Linked DNA regions of Homo sapiens. The protein of the gene in region 2 purifies or fractionates together with the protein of the main gene of each other region. This does not show direct contact. Each region holds a gene or a part of one and is shown on either strand. Other genes may lie near its edges.

Region 1 (3,824 bases), on a different chromosome or scaffold from region 2:
GTTGCTTAGTTAGATGAGCCATAGACAAGGAGTTTGAGACCTGGGTTTTAGCAACTGCTCTGCTAAAACTGGCTGATCTTGTGGAAGATAAACCTCATTGAGTCTTAGTTTGTGCTTTTTTTAAAGTGAGATATTTAGTTAGACTAGTGATTTTCAAACTCTTTTTCCTAGTAGCAAGACTCTTTGTACGAAGAAAATCTTATCTGGATGCCCAACCCAGACAAGAGAGGTTAAGAGTCATTCTGGTTGACTTTGAAGGTGGACTGTCTTTTCTCCCATTGTGGCCATAGTGAAAGTGACTCTGTCTAAAATTTAGTGTATTTTTTCCCCCCAAAGATGGATAATGTGTTAATGGGACGATGTGAGAAGGATAAGAGGTAAGGATGTGGGAGTGAGCAAGGTGACAGATCATAGGCTATGCTTTTTCATATAAAAAATGAAGATGGGTATTACAGAAGATATTACTAAATTGTTTCTCTGAAAAGTCTTATAACTTATGACATGAAACTACATTAAATTATATGTGTCAACTTCAAAACATTACAGTACCTGAAGTGGACACTGCTTTGGCTGTATGACCCCAGTAAGGTAGGGTCAGATGGGCATCTAGGGGACTGGCTTTTCCTGCTTATCTAAGTGATAGAAGTTTTCACTGTTAAAACTTCATTTTATTGCTCTTATTTTTGTCACAAGTCCTTATGAGCTTGGTTGGGTGAAGGGTCACCCAGAAAAGAACCAGCTTCCACTTTCTTTAATTATGCAAACTAGAGCTAGGTGACTGAGAACTTGCTTTTGGTCTGCAAGACATAGGGAGTTTTGCAAGCCCCAAGGGAGTCCAGAATTTCCTGAACATGTTGCAAGGTGGCTGGATGGCTTTCTTCTGAAGTCATGCAATATTGTCCTTCACTTTGGTTATGACTGCAGAGGTGCTGGGAAGCAAAATGAAAACTATCACCTTGAAGCAGGCTTTTCTTCATAGGCCCCAGAGGTGAGGCCAGCTCATTTAAAGGGAATGGCTTGTGCTGCTGCTTTCATCTAAAGGTATTTTGATCCAATTCCACCTCCCAGCTCCTTTATTGGTAATGTTTTCCAAAACACAGTATTTTTGCTGAGGGAAGGACAGGCAAAGGCCTGAACATTTAGAGAGTAGAAAACTGGCTGGGTGTGGACCTTTTACAAAAGTTCATATTTTGCTAGTTTAATTTGGAAAAGGACACATGAATTCTCACAGAAAATGAGCTTTATTGGGGAACAATACATTTCATGAAGGCATTTCTTTATCAGGAATCACACAGGCAGCCCCACGCAGTCACTGCCCCACACCTTATCCTTCAGCTTGTGCTGCACAGGAGAGGAGTGGCTGGGATTCCTGACTAGGGCTTTGATGAGAGTGCATGCACACTGGAGCATGCTTCTTGGCCTGGATGGCAAAGTCCCAGGAGCCAGTCCTAACTCAGACTCTGGCCTGCCTAGGTACATTTCAGATGAAAGTCACCCCTGCTCCTTGCCCCACCCTCAGTCCAACAAAAATGTGCTTCTAGAAATGCTTACTTTTCTTTTTCTACGAAGGGCTTATAATGTGAGGCTACTAAAGATTTTCAGATTTCAGAATAGTACCACTTACCTTGGGCTAGGTTAATTTTTTAGAGAATTGATCTTGTCCCCTAATGAGTAGGAAGATCAACTGGTTTTTGGACATGACTATAAGCAGAAGATGCTAAATAATACCTTAAAAAGACTCCACTGGCCAGGTGCGGTGGTTCACTCCTGTAAACATTTTTTAATTTTTGTGGGTACATAGTAGATGTATATATTTATGGGTTACATGAAATATTTTGGTACAGGCATGCAATGTGTAATAATCACATCAGGATAAATAGGGTTTCCATCATCTTAAGCACTTATCCTTTGTGTTACAAACAATCCAGTTATACTCTTCAGTTATTTTAAAATTTTATTTTTTGAGACAGTCTCACTCTATTGCCTAGGCTGGAGTGCAGTGCCACAATCATGGCTCACTGAAGCCTTGACCGCCTGGTCTCAGGTGATCTTCACCCTCCTGAGTAGCTGGGACTATAGGCGTGTGCCACCATGCCCGGCTAATTGTTTACTTTTTTGTAGAGATGGGGTCTCCCTATGTTGCCCAGGCTGGTCTCAAACTCCTGGGCTCAAGTCATCCTCCCACCTCAGTCTCCCAAAGTGCTGGGATTACAGGCGTGAGCCACCGTGCCCGGCCAGGGAGCTCTTTCAGATTGGCTCCTGTGTCTGTCTGACATGCTTCTATCCTTTTGTTTTTGAGCACTTGCTTAGTTTCTGGTACTACAAGATGCTCCAGGCTTATCTTGCATTTTTTTGGCTCTAGCCTTAGAACCTAGCTATTTTCTCAAGAAGCCTGGGTTCTTTTCTATTGGAAAATATTTAGAAACCAAAATCCAGCACAGTACTTTGAACTGAATTCTGCTTCAGTCCTCCCAAACTAACATAAACTTGGCAGAAGTGTATGGGAGGCAGATGCAGCACCCTCCCAAAGCAGCTGGCCCTGTGGTGACTTGGTGGCAGTTGTCCACTTGGATCCTTAGTTTCTATACTGAGCTACTGGCTCCTCACCTGAGGTCTCTAGACTTGTAGGGCATGTGAGATAACTGAAGAGATATCTCTGGGCACAGAGAGGGAAGAAGTGGAGATACAGCAGCTTCCCTCATTTTTTAATTTTTAATTTTTGAGACAGTGTCTTGCTCTGTCACCCAGGCTGGAGTGCAGTGGTGCAATCTTGGCTCCCTACAACCTCTGCCTCCTGGGCTCAAGTGATCCTCCCACCTCTGACTCCTGAGTAGCTGGGACTCCAGGCATACACCGCCATGCCTGGCTAATTTTTTTTATTTTTGGTGGAGACAGGGTTTTGCTATGTTGCCCAAGTTGGTCTCAAACTCCTGGACTCAAGCAATCAGCCCATCTTGGCTTCCCAAAGTGCTGGGATTACAGGTGTGAGCCCCTGTGCCTGGCTAGCTTCTTTTTCTCTTTACCCTAGGTCACTAGGTCAGAGAGAGAGAGGCCCTGTTATAATCTTTGACTTTTAATAGCTTTATTAAGGTATAATTTATACACATAAACTTTACCTGTTTTAAGTGCATAAATCAATTATTTTTAAAGTTTATAAAGTTGTGCAAAAATGGCTGGGTGTGGTGGCTCACGCCTGTAATCCCAGCGCTTTGGGAGGCCGAGGCAGGAGGATCACCTGAGGTCAGGAGTTCGAGACCAGCCTGACCAACCTGGAGAAAACCTGTCTCTACTAAAAATACAAAATTAGCCGGGCATGGTGGCACATGCCTGTAATCCCAGCTACTCAGGAAGCTGAGGCAGGAGAAATGCTTCAACCCAGGAGGCGGAGGTTGTGGTGAGCTGAGATCGCGCCATTGCACTCCAGCCTGGGCAACAAGAGTGAAACTCCATCTCACACACACACACACACACACACATAAAAGTTGTGCAAAAATTACAACTTAGTTTTGGAACATTTTTGTCACCCCCAAAAGATCCCTTGTGCCCATCTGCAGGCAATCCATGTTTTCACATCAGACCCATGCAACTGCTAATTTAGTATATGCCTTTTCTGGACTGTAAATGGAAACATACCATATGTGGGATATTGCATCAGACTTCTTTCACTAAGCATAATGTTTTGAGATGCATCCATATTGTAGCCTATATCACTACTCCATTGTATACATATATCATTTAAAGAAATCCACCAGTTAAAAAAAAAAAGAAAAAGAAATAATCTGGGTATGTTGGTGCCTGCCTGCAGTCCCAGTTACTGAGGAGGC
Region 2 (3,824 bases):
TAGAATAGCAGTGTTTATCTAGAGATCCACTGGTACACAACTGTAAATTCTTGCCAAAAATGAGAAAAATATATAAGAATCAACATTATATTCTTTTAAAGTTGCAGTGACAAACTGTTAATGGTAAAAGAGTTGTACCTGAGGACATCTGAAGTCTGATTTGAGTCAAGTGGGTGGGAGTGTTTACTGTGAAGCAGCTCGTCAGATTGCACTGAAGGCACGTGGAGGTGCAAAGAGGCCTAAGAAGGTAACAGGTAATCAATCAGTCAGCCAAACAGAAAATAATCTGCTATTTAGTTTTACCTTATTCTCCCAATATATCTTATAAAATGATGAAATACATTTTAGTCCTATGTTATGAATGAAAGCCACTATAAAAATGCTTGTTCTCTTTTAACTAATTCATTATAGAAATGTTTTTTTTTTTTTTTTTAAGTAGGGGCAGGTTCTTGTTCTGTTGACCAGGCTGGTCTTGAACTCCTGGCCTCAAACAATCCTCCTGCCTTGGCCTCCCAAAGTGCTGGGATTACACGCATGAGCCACTGTGCCTAGCCAGAAGTGATTTTTAAGTGCAAAACTTACTTTGAATCTATTTCCTTTTCTTTAGCTTTATTGTTTTTGAGACCATACAATAATCCTTAGAAAAAGAATTTCTAATTACCTGCTAAGTCTAATTTGCCTAGATGTGCAAAGTAAATGTTTAAGGAGGCACTAAATTGAGTAGTTAAACCTGAGTAGTCTGTCCTTAAGATATATGACACCCTTTATGACTACGCAGACATACCTACGTCTAGCACTGAAAAAAGTAACAGGAATAAGCATAAGCAAATAGTTTGGTTACAGCACAATAAACCTTAAACAAGCTATCTTCGGTTGAACTGAGAACACTCTAAGTAATACAGTGCACAGATGCCTGCTTTGCCCACTCAATTTCATAATAGAGGGTAGGTAAAAACTGGCACACTCATTTAGATATGGCAATGAATAGTGGGAGAAAGGAATAAACTACTCCACACTCCAATTAAATGAGTCATTTTTTTTATAAGTCAATATAGTATTAAAAAGCTATGATAAAACAATGGTGATGTTCACTGCAGTAACTCTTGGTAGATCTCATTCTGTACACTGTATAAGGTACTATTTTATATTTAGGTGTTCTCTCCTCTGCAACTGCAATACATATAGAAACTCATGTAGTACATTTAGGAATATAACCAAAAATAGCTATGTTTCAACTGTCTACAAACTCTTGATTTATGGAGTTATAAGCAAGTCTCACACTGCAAATCACTACAAATTTTTAAAATGTAATTAGTACCAGTACTCTATTCCTATGATAAAAAGGGATCTAGCTAACAACCCATTATATTTCCAAGCAAAGAGAAACAAACCAGGTGGCTTTACTGCCTACAGTATAAAACTAAAATAAGATATATGAAAAAAAAAAGTGAACAAAAAGTATGGTAAATTATGCCTTAGGTGATAGTTCATAACCAGAAGTCCTAATCTTGTTACAATGTATCTAAGGGTGAATGCCCGCTTTATACTATCCTTTCTGCAAATAAATACTGAGTAGGAAAAGCTCTAGATAGTCCCTTGGACTTTTTGTAAAGTTGTGTTTCCTGAACACATCCCCTGAAACACTAAGATAATAAACTATTAACAGGTGTTAAATAATCCTTTCCTTGTGTATTAATAAGTTTGGGAAATGCTAGGTAAACTATCTTATTTACCTCTGTTTTTCAGACTTTAGTGTGCATACATGTATTATGACTAGAAAAGAGGACAGATAGCATGTGTAGCACCCTCCCAAAGGACCAAAGAATCCTTTGTTTTGTGGAGACACCAAAGACTACTAGTATATAGAAAATCCCTGACCTCAGGTGATCTGCCTGCCTCAGCCTCCCAAAGTGCTGGGTTTACAGGTGTGAGCCACTGCACCCGGCAGCAAGTATTTAAATTAGCATGACTTGTGGATTAAAAACAGTCAACTTCCGGTGGTTTTACATAAGAATAAGTGAGTCACGGCCGGGCGCGGTGGCTCACGCCTGTAATCCCAGCACTTTGGGAGGCCGAGGCGGGCGGATCACGAGGTCAGGAGATCGAGACCATCCCGGCTAAAACGGTGAAACCCCATCTCTACTAAAAAAATACAAAAAATTAGCCGGGCGTAGTGGCGGGCGCCTGTAGTCCCAGCTACTTGGGAGGCTGAGGCAGGAGAATGGCGTGAACCCGGGAGGCGGAGCTTGCAGTGAGCCGAGATCCCGCCACTGCACTCCAGCCTGGGCGACAGAGCGAGACTCCGTCTCAAAAAAAAAAAAAGAATAAGTGAGTCACATCTAAATTTGTTATTCTGGAACAATATTAGCAGCAGTAATATAATTCTGTATAGGGCTTTTATATCTCATTTTGTGACTTATCTCCACTTCATGTTACATTGCTTACTAACAAATTCGGTTTTGTTTTTTTGAGAGAGGGTCTCCTGTCACCTAGCTGGAGTGCAGTGGCATGATCATGGCTCACTGCAGCCTCAACCTCTTGTGCTCATGCGATCCTCCCTCCTGCCCCAGCTTTTCATGTTATTAGGACTATAGGCACATGCCACCATGCCTAATATTAAAAACTTTTTAGAGAGACAAAATTTCACTATGTTGTCCAGGCTGATCACAAACTCCTGGCCTCAAGTGATCCTCCTGCCTCGACCACCCAAAGTGCTGGGATTATAGGGGTGAATCGCTGTGCCCAGCCTGAGTTTGTTGTAATAAATCACGATGAATCTGAGAGTCTCATTACTGTATTTAAAAACCACTCAGTTTTTTTTTAACACAGCAATCTACACACAGCTAGAAAAACTTTTTTAAGTAGTAAATGAAACTAAAAATCAAGTATTACAAAGATTATAAATCTTTTTTTTGTTTGTTTGTTTTGAGATGGAATCTCACTCTGTCACCCAGGCTGGAGTGCAGTGGCGCGATCTCGGCTCACTGCAACCTTTACCTGCCGGGTTCAAGTGATTCTCCTGCCTCAGTCTCCCAAATAGCTAATTTGCACGTGCCACCACGCCTGGCTAATTTTTTTGTAGTTTTAGTAGAAACGGGGTCTCACCATGTTGGCCAGACTGGTCTCAAACTGCTGACTTTGTGATCCACCTGCCTCAGCCTCCCAAAGTGCTGGGATTACAGGCATGAGCCACTGCGCCCAGCCCAAGATTATAAATCTTTTATTCCCCAAAATAATGCAGCATAACAGCAGTGCAGTATGATGTAATTCAAAGAATAACATAATAATCATTAAAAGACCCAGGTTTCAGTCTTGAGTCTATTACCAATTTATGACTTTAAACAGGTGAGTTTTTCTGAACTTAAATATGCTCACCTAGAAAATGAGAAGGTTAGACAGAGGTAATATAAAGTTTCTCTCAGCTCTAAATTTCCATATATGCAGTTGAAACAGATTGAGCATCTCCAATTTGAAAAAATCCAAAAATGGAAACAATTCTGGTCCCAAGCATTTCGAATAAGGGATACTCAATCTACACTAACAACAAGGGCCCTAGGAGTTTGACTTAGGAATAAAGTTCTAAAAATATAAATTTAAAAACTAGTTGTTTTTTTTTTTTTTGAGACAGAGTCTCAGATATTGTCACCCAGGCTGGAGTGAAGTGGTACGATCTCGGCTCACTGCAACCTCTGCCTCCCAGGTTCAAGCGATTCTCCTGCCTTAGCCTCCCGAGTAGCTGGGACTACAGGCGCCCGCCACCACACCTGGCTAATTCTTGTATTTTCAGTAGAGACGAGGTTTCGCCATGTTGGCCAGGCTGGTCT

Evidence for each region.
Region 1: the proteins of MED13 (region 2) and RPAP2 purify together in Homo sapiens (affinity purification with mass spectrometry, with the first as the bait; one large-scale study listed by BioGRID). This does not show direct contact.

The regions. Positions count from the first base shown.
Region 1 is NC_000001.11:92,396,287-92,400,110, reverse strand, and holds part of RPAP2 (putative RNA polymerase II subunit B1 CTD phosphatase RPAP2), read right to left. Parts: 3' UTR 1-3,824.
Region 2 is NC_000017.11:61,946,779-61,950,602, forward strand, and holds part of MED13 (mediator of RNA polymerase II transcription subunit 13), read right to left. Parts: intron 240-3,824; coding exon 139-239; intron 1-138. UniProt on the Homo sapiens protein: Component of the Mediator complex, a coactivator involved in the regulated transcription of nearly all RNA polymerase II-dependent genes.